3 linked regions of the Homo sapiens genome follow. The protein of the gene in region 1 purifies or fractionates together with the protein of each later gene. This does not show direct contact. Each region holds a gene or a part of one and is shown on either strand. Other genes may lie near its edges. The genes, in order: KNG1, MRC2 and PPP2R2C.

What was found.
Region 2: the proteins of KNG1 (region 1) and MRC2 purify together in Homo sapiens (affinity purification with mass spectrometry; one large-scale study listed by BioGRID and IntAct). This does not show direct contact.
Region 3: the proteins of KNG1 (region 1) and PPP2R2C purify together in Homo sapiens (affinity purification with mass spectrometry; one large-scale study listed by BioGRID and IntAct). This does not show direct contact.

The regions. Positions count from the first base shown.
Region 1 is NC_000003.12:186,715,900-186,720,171, reverse strand, and holds the start of KNG1 (kininogen-1 isoform 1 precursor), read right to left. Parts: upstream 2,814-4,272; 5' UTR 2,630-2,813; coding exon 2,435-2,629; intron 68-2,434; coding exon 1-67. UniProt on the Homo sapiens protein: Kininogens are inhibitors of thiol proteases.
Region 2 is NC_000017.11:62,634,073-62,637,722, forward strand, and holds part of MRC2 (C-type mannose receptor 2 precursor), read left to right. Parts: intron 1-3,650. UniProt on the Homo sapiens protein: May play a role as endocytotic lectin receptor displaying calcium-dependent lectin activity. Internalizes glycosylated ligands from the extracellular space for release in an endosomal compartment via clathrin-mediated endocytosis.
Region 3 is NC_000004.12:6,465,979-6,469,628, forward strand, and holds part of PPP2R2C (protein phosphatase 2, regulatory subunit B, gamma), read right to left. Parts: intron 1-3,650. UniProt on the Homo sapiens protein: The B regulatory subunit might modulate substrate selectivity and catalytic activity, and might also direct the localization of the catalytic enzyme to a particular subcellular compartment.

The sequences.
Region 1 (4,272 bases):
CACTTTGAACAGGACAATCCCCCTCCTTGATTTCGTACTTGAAGGAATAAAACGTGTCAGAGCCAACCTGAAAAGCAGCCAAAGATACTTAGGGTTCATCCAACTGACCCAACAGCAAATAATTCTAGTGGGTTCCGGTAAAGTTAGGAATATTGATCTTTGACTTGAGAGCAAAGCATTCACTTAAAATATATTTATATTTCTATCATAAACATTTATGTGAAAGAATGTTTATAATATATTCACAATGTACTTTTAAAGGTTACAAAGCAGTATGCATAGTATTAGCCCATTTTTGTCAAAACTGGTTTATATATAAATCTATGTCTTTTAAAAGTCTGGAAAGATACACAGCAAGCTGTTAAAATGTTTGTCTGTCAGTGGTGAGATTATAATTATCTTTCACTTTCTTCTTCAAGCAAACATTTCTTTTTTTTTTTTTTGAGATGGAGTCTCGCTCTGTCGCCCAGGCTGGAGTGCAGTGGCGTGATCTCGGCTCACTGCAAGCTCTGCCTCCCGGGTTCACGCCATTCTCCTGCCTCAGCCTCCAGAGTAGCTGGGACTACAGGCGCCCTCCACCACGCCTGGCTACTTTTTTGTATTTTTTAGTAGAGACTGAGTTTCACCATGGTCTCGATCTCCTGACTTCGTGATCCCCCCGCCTTGGCCTCCCAAAGTGCTGGGATTACAGGCATGAGCCACCGCGCCCGGCCCAAGCAAACATTTCTAAGTGGTCTTTTTCCCCTAATGAACGTATATGACTTTTACAAATTAGAAAAAGCAAACAAGAAAACCTTAAACAAATGTTAACAGTTATCTCTGTATGGTGGAATTAATTATGGGTGATTTTAGTACTTTTATTTGGTTTATTTTGTTTCCTACTTTTTCTTTTTTAAACAGCTTTATTGAGATATAATTTACATGCCATAAAATTTACCCACTAAAGGCATACAATTTAATGTTTTTTAGTATATTTACAACCATACCCACAATCTATTGGGTACCACACCACCAATAAACTGTTGCTTGAGATCACCATGAAGCAGAATTTCTCACATGACTGTACTAGATTATGAAAGAAAATGGCTCGATTTTACTTTCAGAAAAAATAACATGTCCACTGTGTTTATTTTCCTTTATCCCCATGTTGTCACATGGCTAGTTTTTTTTTTTCTGCTAAAGTAACCAATTGCTTGACATTCCCAGAGATATAGTCTTTTATAGTGAAATTTGTTTAAACATACTCTTGAAAGATTGGTATTTCTTTGAACCATGCATCCTGCCAGGATTTGTCTCCTGCTGGAGTGCATCATTGCAATAATATCAAAAACTAACTAAAACGTTGCTGTTAAACCCAGTACATTCAGCCATACAGACTTCTGTCTAATTCCGTAGAATCACATTAACCTCATTCCTCACTCCTCTTAGACATGCCCCATGAAGTACCCCCTCCCATTAAAGGTTTGGAGTTCTATAGTTTTTAGCCTAGGGCCAGAGACCCAGTGAATTCTTTTGCTGCAGTCTAACTAAATTCCTAAATTCTCCCTCTCTACTTGGTCCTGTTGAGATTTCTCCATCTACTTTTGTTTCATTTCACCCTAGATTCTACTTCTCTGATCATCCAGGAAGCCAACCTGCCTGAGGACGAGTCATACTCTGTCCTCCCACCCCAGGCCAGAGAGTGGTATCTGTCTTTCCACAAGTTGTAAGCTTCTACCTTTGATGATCACATATTTGGTAGTGCGTGATGGTGGTGGGTGGTGGGTGGCGGTGGTGGTGGGTGGTGAGGGGTGGTAGTGGTGGTGGGTGGTGGTGGGTGGTGGTGGTGGTGGGTGGTGGGTGGTGGTGGGTGGTGGTGGTGGTGGGTGGTGGGTGGTAGGTGGTGGGTGATGGTGGTGGGTGGTGGGTGGTGGGTGGTGGTGGGTGGTGGGTGATGGTGGTGGGTGGTGGGTGGTGGTGGTTGGGTGGTGGTGGTGGATGGTGGTGGTGGTGGGTGATGGTGGTGGGTGGTGGGTGGCGGTGGTGGTGGGTGGTGAGGGGTGGTAGTGGTGGTGGGTGGTGGTTGGTGGTGGTGGATGGTGGTGGTTGGTGGTGGTGGGTGGTGGGTGGTGGGTGATGGTGGTGGGTGATGGTGGCGAGTGGTGGTGGGTGGTGGGTGATGGTGGTGGGTGGTGGTGGGTGATGATGGTGGGTGGTGGTGGGTGGTGGGTGGTGGGTGATGGTGGTGGGTGGTGGTGGGTGGTGGGTGGTGGTGGATGGTGGTGGTGGTGGTGGGTGGTGGTGGTGGTTGTGGTGGTGGTGGTGGGTGATGGTGGTGGGTGGTGGGTGGTGGTGGTGGGTGCTGGTGGTGGTATGTGTGTGTGTGTGTGAGGCCTGGACTCCTAGTGATAGTACAAATCCCAAGTGACTTCAAGGTTAAACACAATTCACTCACCGTCTTAGTGGCTTCAGTTATGCGGTACAATACAAACTGGTTGTTACTTTGGTTTTGACTGTTATATTTCTTCAGAGCAGCATCCACAGCTTTAAATAAATCCTTGTCATTGCAGTCAATTTCCTCGGACTGTGATTCCTGGGTTAAACTTAGTAGCAGCCTGGAGCAGAGGAAAAGGATGGTAATTAGTTTCATGATCTAACAATCTCCCTCTAGGAGCTGAGGGATGGTTTCACCAAGAATCAAGAGCCAACTGGGATACTGAATTTGACAATCTCCAGCCTCTTGTTTCTTCTGTCCTCCTCTCTGCCTCAGAACTCAGGGCACTGGTTGGATTCCTGCTGCCAGACGCTAGTTGCCTTGTTCCCAAAGGTTAAATGGCTCTGCTGGGTTATCCAAACATATTTACAGCTAGAACATTGCAACACTGGGGTTGTTAACCTGCTCATTTGCATTTGAAAATCACGTGGCAGCACAGTGCATATTTCCAGGTGATTATACAACTTTATGTAGCAAATCAGAGCAGAATCTGATGAAGGAGGGGAAACAAGTGCCTACTAACTCGGTTATTCCCCTGTGACTTTTGCAAAGCCATTTTTGAAGGTCACTACATGGGTAAACAATGCAAGAATGAGTACAATGTGCAGACACATTTCATACAAAGTTTCTTTGCAGGATACCTACCTGCATAGAAGCAGACTGCTGTTAATTCTATTACATGCCTAAGAAGCTCATGCACAGGGGCATCCAGTGAGTTCCAGGAGTCCCATGCAGGACATTGGCACAACTGAAAATAAAATATGGGCGTCCTATCTGCTCTCTGGACAGGCCAGCCTTTCTCTGCTCAGTTGCATTAGTTCTGTAAAAGAAAATTGCTCCCAGGGTGGAGATAGAGGAAAAGCATAGGAAGGGATGGGTTGAGTGAAGCCCTGGATTCCCTATGCTTGCTTCTTTCTGGTTTGGTGTTGTTGGTTTGGCACAGAAAAAGATAGCCCCAAATATGGCTCTTTGGCATGCCGAGTACTTTGAACTGAAAGACATTAAAAAGGCTGCAAAAGCAAAGTCTCTTTCTTGCTTTCTCCTGCCCGTCTTTCTCCTGCTCCACTTCTCTCAAGGCAGGCCACAGAAGCTAGAATTTCTCTTCCCCAAGGCGGGTCATAGAACCCTTCTCCCTCAAAGCCAGCAATAAAACTTTATTATTCTTATTTTCCTCACATCAACACAGAGTGGGGAAACTATATTACAGAATGGTCCCCACCTGTAGACCAACATTGGAAAACTACAGTTGATAATCTCAGCAGAAGTGTGAGGCTTGATGGTATCAACATCCTTACTCCAGTAAAAATTGGCCAGGCACGGTGGCTCACACCTGTAATCCCAGCACTTTGGGAGGCTGAGATGGGTGGATCACCTGAGGTCGGGAGTTCGAGACCAGCCTGACCAACATGGAGAAACCCCATCTCCACTAAAAATACAAAATTAGCCGGGCGTAGTGGCACATGCCTGTAATCCTAGTTGCTCGGGAAGCTGAGGCAGGAGAATTGCTGGAACCCGGGAGGTGGAGATTGCAGTGAGCTGAGATTGCGCCATTGCAATCCAGCCTGGGCAACAAGAGCAAAACTCTGTCCAAAAAAAAAAAAAAAAAAAAAAAATTCGGCCTATTCACTCTGCTCCTTGTTCAGACTTTATTTTTTTAAAAAGTCTGTAGAGCCATGTTCATGAGGACAAACCTAATTTTTCTTTTTCTTTCTTTTTTCCTTTTTTTTTTTTTGACACAGGACATAGATGTTTGGACTATTTTCAATCTTTTTGTTTCTGATAAAAAATTATGTAAAGAA
Region 2 (3,650 bases), on another chromosome or scaffold:
TTACTTCTTGATGATATGCTAAACAAGGGGTGGATTATTCATGAGTTTTCTGGGAAAGGGGTGGGCAATTCCCGGAACTGAGGGAGTCTTCCCTTTTTAGACCCTATAAGGTAATTTCTTGACGTTGCCATGACATTTGTAAACTGTCGTGGCGCTGATAGGAGTATCTTTTAGCATGCCAATGCGTTATAATTAGTGTATAAAAAAATGGGCAGTGAGAATGACCACAAGTCATTTTTTTTTTTTGAGATGGAGTCTCACTCTGTTGCCCAGGCTGAAGTGCGATGGCGTGGTCTTGGCTCACTGCAACCTCTGCCTCCCAGGTTCAAGCAATTCTCCTGCCTCAGCCTCCCAAGTAGCTGGGACTGTAGGCATGTGCCACTACACGTGGCTAATGTTTGTACTTTTAGTAGAGATGGGATTTTACCATGTTGACCAGGCTGGTCTTGAACTCCTGACCTCATGATCTGCCTGCCTCAGCCTCCCAAAGTGCTGGGATTACAGGCGTGAGCCACCACGCCTAGCCCAGAGATCACTTTTGTCACCTTTTAGTTTTGGTGGGATTTGGGTGGCTTCTATACTGCGTGCTGTTTTTTCAGCAAGGTCTTTGTGACCTGTGTCTTGTGTTGACCTCCGGTGTCATCCTGTGGCTTAGAATGCCTAACCTCTTGGGAACGCAGCCCAGGAGTTCCCAGCCTCGTTTTACCCAGCCCCTTTTAAAGATGGAGTTGCTCTGGTTTGAACACCTCTGATACAACTTTTTTTTTTTTTTTTTTAGGACGGAGTCTCCCTCTGTCACCCAGGCTGGAGTGCAGTGGCACAATCTTGGCTCACCACAACTTCCACCTTCCGAGTTCAGGCGATTCTCTTGCCTCAGCTTCCCAAGTAGCTGGGACTACAGGCACGTGCCACCACGCCCAGCTAATTTTTGTAGTTTTAGTGGAGACGGGGTTTTACCATGTTGGCCAGACGGGTCTTGAACTCCTGACCTCAGGCGATCCACCCGCCTTGGCCTCCCAAAGTGCTGGGATTACAGAAGTGCACCACCATGCCCAGCCCCATTGTTTTTTTTTTAAATTGAAGCAGGTCTGAACCTGTTACTTCATTGCTATTTTTCTCTTTTTTTTTTTTTTTTTTTTTCAGAAATAGCCTCAATCAGAGGCATTACTTCTTCGTGACACTTTGCTAACTACTGTAAGTGCCAAAAAGTAATCATAGTTTTTCTGAAAGTAAAAGAAATACCAAAGAAAAAAAATCCCACCCTCAATGGTCCTACCCCCTAAAGCCCCTCAATTTATCACCATCCTCTTTATCACCTTCCTCTTCATCCTTACACTTCTCTATTTAACCTTCATTTAGGGAAGGATAAGGAGCTTCCTGGGACTCTGGAATAAAACCAAGACAGACTAGGGAACACTGGGATGGTTGGGCATACCTCTCCCCTTTTTGCCTCTAGTTGCCTTTAGCCTACTGTCTGAGGGACTGCCTCCCAAGGGTCATACTGATGAGGCTCCCTAATTACTAAATTAAGTGACCTTTCTTAGGCCTCACCTTGCAGCATGCATGCTGTTCATTGGCCTCAATTGTAAGAATGGGCCAGGCATGGTGGCTCATGCCTGTTACTCCAGTGCGTTTGGAGGCCACGGGAGGAGAGACTGCTTGAGGCCAGGAGTTTGAGACCAGCTGGGGCAACATAACAAGACCCTGTGTCTAGAATTTTTTTTTTTTTTTCTGAGACGGAGTCTCGCTCTGTTGCCCAGGCTGGAGTGCAGTGGCACGATCTCCACTCACTGCAAGCTCTGCCTCCCCGGTTCACGCAATTCTCCTGCCTCAGCCTCCCGAGTAGCTGGGACTACAGGCGCCCGCCACCACGCCCGGCTAATTTTTTGTGTTTTTAGTAGAGACAGGGTTTCACTGTGTTAGCCAGGATGGTCTCAATCTCCTGACCTCGTGATCCACCTGCCTCGGCCTCCCAAAGTGCTAGGATTACAGGCGTGAGCCACCGCGCCCGGCCAATTTTTTTTTTTTTAAATTAGCTGGGCACAGTGGTGCGTGCCTGTAGTCTCAGCTACTCAGGAGGCTGAGGCAGGAGGATTACTTGAGCCCAGGAGTTGGAGGCTGCAGTGAGCTATGATTGCACCACTGCACAACCTGGGCAACAGAGTGAGACCCTGTCGCAAAAAAAAAAAAAAGTAAAAATGCATGCTCAGTGGAAAACATTCAAACCATACACAAGTAAGTGCAAAAAAATGTGAAGTCCACTCCCTTACACTACACTGATTACACACTAGCACAGGCCACAGTCTACCACTGGTAGATTCTGTGGGTAATCTTCCCAACCAAGATTCCCCAATGAAGATTAGTAGTAGTTCATTGGGTAATCTTCTGATTTTTTTTTTTTTTTTTTTTTTTTTGAGACGGAGTCTCGCTCTGTCGCCCAGGCTGGAGTGCAGCGGCGGGATCTCGGCTCACTGCAAGCTCCACCTCCCAGGTTCACGCCATTCTCCCACCTCAGCCTCCCGAGTAGCTGGGATTACAGGCACTCACCACCACGCCTGGCTAATTTTGTTTTTGAATTTTTAGTAGAGACGGGGTTTCACCGTGTTAGCCAGGATGGTCTCAACCTCCTGACCTCGTGATCCGCCCGCCTCAGCCTCCCAAGTGCTGCGATTACAGGCGTGAGTCACAGCACCTGGCCTGTCGTTGTTTTTTAACTAAAGACAGAGTCTCACTATGTTGCCCAGGCCTGGCTTTGAACTTCTGGGCTCATGCGATTCTTCTGCCTTGGCCTCCCAAAGTGCTGGGATTACAGGCACAAACCACTGCACCTGGACCAATGGACACTTTTGAAAACTCTCTTCCCCCGGCCTTTGTGGTGTAATTTACATCCACAGTTTCCTCCCTTAGGGTCTTCCCTTCCACCCTCAGTCCAGAGCTGGCATTGCTGCCAGGTTAGCGCTGCTAAGGGGAAGCTTGAATCGATGTAAACTTTCTGAATTTAGAATTTCTGCTAGGCTCGGTGACTCATGCCTGTAATCCCAGCACTTTGGGAGGCCGAGGCAGGCGGATCACCTGAAGTCAGGAGTTCAAGACCAGCCTGGCCAGGTAAAACCCCCGTCTCTACTAAAAATACAAAAATACAAAATAGTGAAACCCTGTCTCTACTAAAAATACAAAAATCAGCCATGTGTGATGGTGCATGCCTGTAATCCCAGCACTTTGGGAGGCTGAGGCAGGTGGATCACTTGAGGTCAGGGGTTCGAGACTAGTCTGGCCAACATGGTGAAACCCTGTCTCTCCTGAAAATACAAAAATTAGCTGGGCATGGTGGCACATGCCTGTAATCCCAGCAGCTCGGGAGGCTGAGGCAGGAGAATCACTTGAACCCTGGAGGTGGAGGTTGCAGTGAGCTGAGATCACGCCATTGCACTCCAGCCTGGGTAAAAGAGGAAGACTGTGTCTCAAAAAAAAAAAAAAAGAAAAGAAAAAGAAAGAATTCCCGGCCTTCTCAGTGCTTGTGCAGGTCAAGCTGAGCTCCTTACCGTTCCCATAGCTCCCAGTACTGCCCAACCCGGACTCTGCTCAGGCTTTTTTTCCCTGCCAGGAGCACCAGCTTCCCAGGGGGCTGTTTCTGAGTCCCAACTCACACC
Region 3 (3,650 bases), on another chromosome or scaffold:
GCGATTGGCAAATATGGGCACGTAACACACGTTAAGAAAGGACACCATAGGGTTCCTGCGTCATTCATGTTTCTTAGAAGTCACTGCATGAGAACATCAATGCCTTGGAGCATTATTTGAAAGCATGGCCCCTGCCTGTGAAACTACAGACGCACTGAGAAGGTGCATGAGCTGTCCACTGTGCATGGGGCTCAGACGCTCAAGTGAACACAGGGTAGCGTGCTGTGGGAGCCAATATGTGTAACCACAGACTCGCCTGCCACACGTACCCCTCTGCTCATTCCCAGGCTCCCCCGTCCCATCAGATTTCGCTTACAAAACACAGGATCCAAAGTGAAATTCTTAAAAATTTCAAGATAGTAACAGCAGAACATGAACCCAAGCACAGGTCCTTCTGAGTGTGGGGACCTAGATGACCACACAGGTTGCATATCCATGAAGCCAGCCCTGGAGCAAAGCCCTGGAAAATTCCTATAATCTCATGCCAAACTAGAAAAGTAGCCTTCAAAATTGTTGATACAGACAGATTACAGTTTTCATTAAAAACAGACATGGGCATTAAAAAAAGACTGGAAGGAAATACCCCAGTTGCTGAGAGTATGTCCCTCTGCTTGGTGGACTCACAGGAGTTCACTCTCCTTCTCTTACTCCCCATCACACTCTCCATGGAGCCTAGCGCTTCATACAGCGGCTCTTCCAGTCTCAAGGCCTAAACACTTCTTACCAAACATCCCTTAGCTCTGCAAGCTTTAAGGATAAACACTAAAAAGTGTAGCAAATGACAACAGTCAGGAGATGGAGTGGAAAAATTTTATTAGAATTTGATTTTCATCTTCCAGAAAGAAAATGAGAAAAACCGTGCTCTGTGACTGCGCCAAGCTTTAAGTTCGGGTTGATTAAAAAGAAAGGAGCACATTGCTTACAGCAGGGGCGTGGGAGTTGGCCTACACTACAATTTGGGGAAATTGACAGCAGTCGCCTTTTACACGTGTAGAACTTCAGAGTCCACATGCCCTTGGCTCCTTACAGCCTCATGACAACCCAGGGCACCAGGCAGTGCAGGGAAACTGAGGCTCAGAAAGTGATGTGATTTGATGGAGGGCACCCCAGCACTGAAATGGAGCCCACACTCGCTGTGAAGCCCAAGGGAAGCTTATGTAAGTGGCGTTTCCAAACAGAAGCGAAAGGAACACAGAATCTGAACAGTCCACATCTTGATTTTCAAAAGTCAAAGGCTGACTCTCCCTAATCTCCCTCTGTGCCACCACTAATGTCCCCCCTCTTAGCCTCAGTTTCCCCATAGGTTGGGGTGGAAGTTAGGCTAGCCAGTCTGATGACAGTTCTAAGGGCTAGTCTAACTCTGGCCCCTAAAGAATAGACATCATCACTTACTGATCTATTAAGAATAAACTGAGGCTCAGAGAGACCGTGTGACCTGCCCAATATTACAGACCCAGGGTCAGACCCCACCAGGAACCCAGATCTCCCGATGCCAGATCTCAGGCTCTCTTATCTGACCAAAAATACCTCCTCAATAGGACTGAGGAGGGAAAACCAGAAATTGGCAACCTTGACTTGAGTGAAATGAAAGAGGGTTCTCAAAACAGAAAGCAAACAAAAATCCCTCTGGGTTTTATGTATCTCGAGTCTTAGCTGTGGGTTACAGATCAGCCTCCTGGTTTTCTTGATAAGCAGTCAGGGCTGTACGAGTTGGGGTGCTATGGGCTGCAAGTAACGGAGACTTGAAAGTGCACAACGAAAAGGAAAAGTAACAGCTCATGTAACTGGAAGTTCAGAGGCGGCCTGGACATCAGGCCTCTATGTCCTGGATCTCACTCACTCTCTGCCCTGCCATCAACGGTGGTGGCCTAAGACTTGCTCCCCTCATGGTGTCAGATGGCTGCCAGCCACCACAAGGTTTCCCTGTTCCCATCACAAGAGAGGGACCAACTACCTGTGGTTCTCCCTACTTTCCACTCAACCTCCAGAACTGACTCCCACATCCATTCTGGAACCAGTCACTGCAAGGGGAATGAGATCATCCTTGCACTGATCACATCCAGCTATGGCCTGAGATCTCTTACTAGGAACCATATGTGTTCTCCTTGGAAGAAGAGAGACTAACTGTTGTGGAGATCAGCTGCAACGTCCACCATAAGGGTGCAGATTTCACTGAATGCTGAGTCTCCCACAAGCAGCATCCCCTCTTCAGTGTGGTTTCCTGGGCAGAAAGTAGATGGTATCCAGGGCACAACCAGTTCAAAACCTGCAGACAATTCCATGCAGGAAAACCTGCCTGCCTGCTGCGTTCAGACAGCCTCAGGACCCCATGATGACCTTAGCAATTCCCAAGCATCCTTCACTTCCTCAACTATAAAATCAGGACAACTCTGTGGGAATAAACAGACTACTCTGAAATCACACAGGACATCCAGGGATGGGAGTTAGGAAAACATGGGTACATCCTTTATGCAGATGCAAAAAGCATGAGTGTCCAACAGTGTGTGATGGCTGAGATGCTCAAACAAGGGGAAGCTGTGCCTCTGGCCTCAGCTGAAAAGTGTGCTCCGGAAGTGCCTTACCTGTCAGGCACATGAGAGTGACTGTTGCTCCCCAGAAAGACCCAGTCACTGCCAGGATCTACCTGGTCAGCCTGAACCACCTCCCCTTGGCTGAGCTCCTGTGTCTTGGTCATCACTGCTGCCCAGGGCAGGATGTGCTTGGCAAATGGTGCTAAGCAAAGGAAGGATGGATGGGTTTTGTAAGTTCAGTCTAGTCTGGAAGTGCTTATTCAACTCACTCTAAAGCTAAGTACTGAGGCCTGCCGCAAAAAGAGAAAGAACAGAGCCAGGAAGAGTCCTTCCTGGAACCATATCCAGCTCTTGAGAAATGTCTAACTAGATGGAGACTTCCTAGCACCCTCCAGGGTCCAGGGCCCAGGGCCCAGTGCCCTATCAGCTGCACTGCTCTCCCCACACCCTGACCCCATTCATGCAAAGTTCTCTGTGCCCCCAGGTGGCCTGCAGGTACACCTAATCATCACCATAACCCTCAATGCAGTTGAGCCCAGCCAAGAGTAAGCCACCCAGCCCTGCCACCAAAAAAAAAAAAAAAAAAAAAAAAAAAAATCCAACCTGCTCTGACGAATTCACACCAAGATGTGAATGACTAACAAAACCTAAACTCTTCCTAAGATGTTTGAGATTTTACAAGAGACTCAGGAACCCAAGCAGGGCTCCCACGGGCAAAGATGACATTGGACATGGGGCCCAAAGGATGAGAAAGAGTCAGTGGTGAGAAAGGCAGGAGGTGGGTATTCCAGGCAACAGCCATTGCAAACGCCCTGAAGCAAGAAAGAAAATGGCCTGCTCAAGGAACAGGAGGTAGATCAGAGCAGCTGGGGTGTGGTGGGGGAGTGTAGACTCAACCACAGGTAGAACAGGAGTTTGTGCACCTGGTTCTTCCGCAAACTGAATTTTAGCATCCACTGTTTGCCCACAGGCTCTTCCAGTTACAAGGCATATAAATAATAACAATGCCATGTGTTCAATGCCTCCAACAACCCAAGCACTGTGCTGGGCACTTTTGATATTAGCAAAATCACTGATCATCCCAGCAACCCTGTATGAAAGGTCGTTATTATTTCTCCC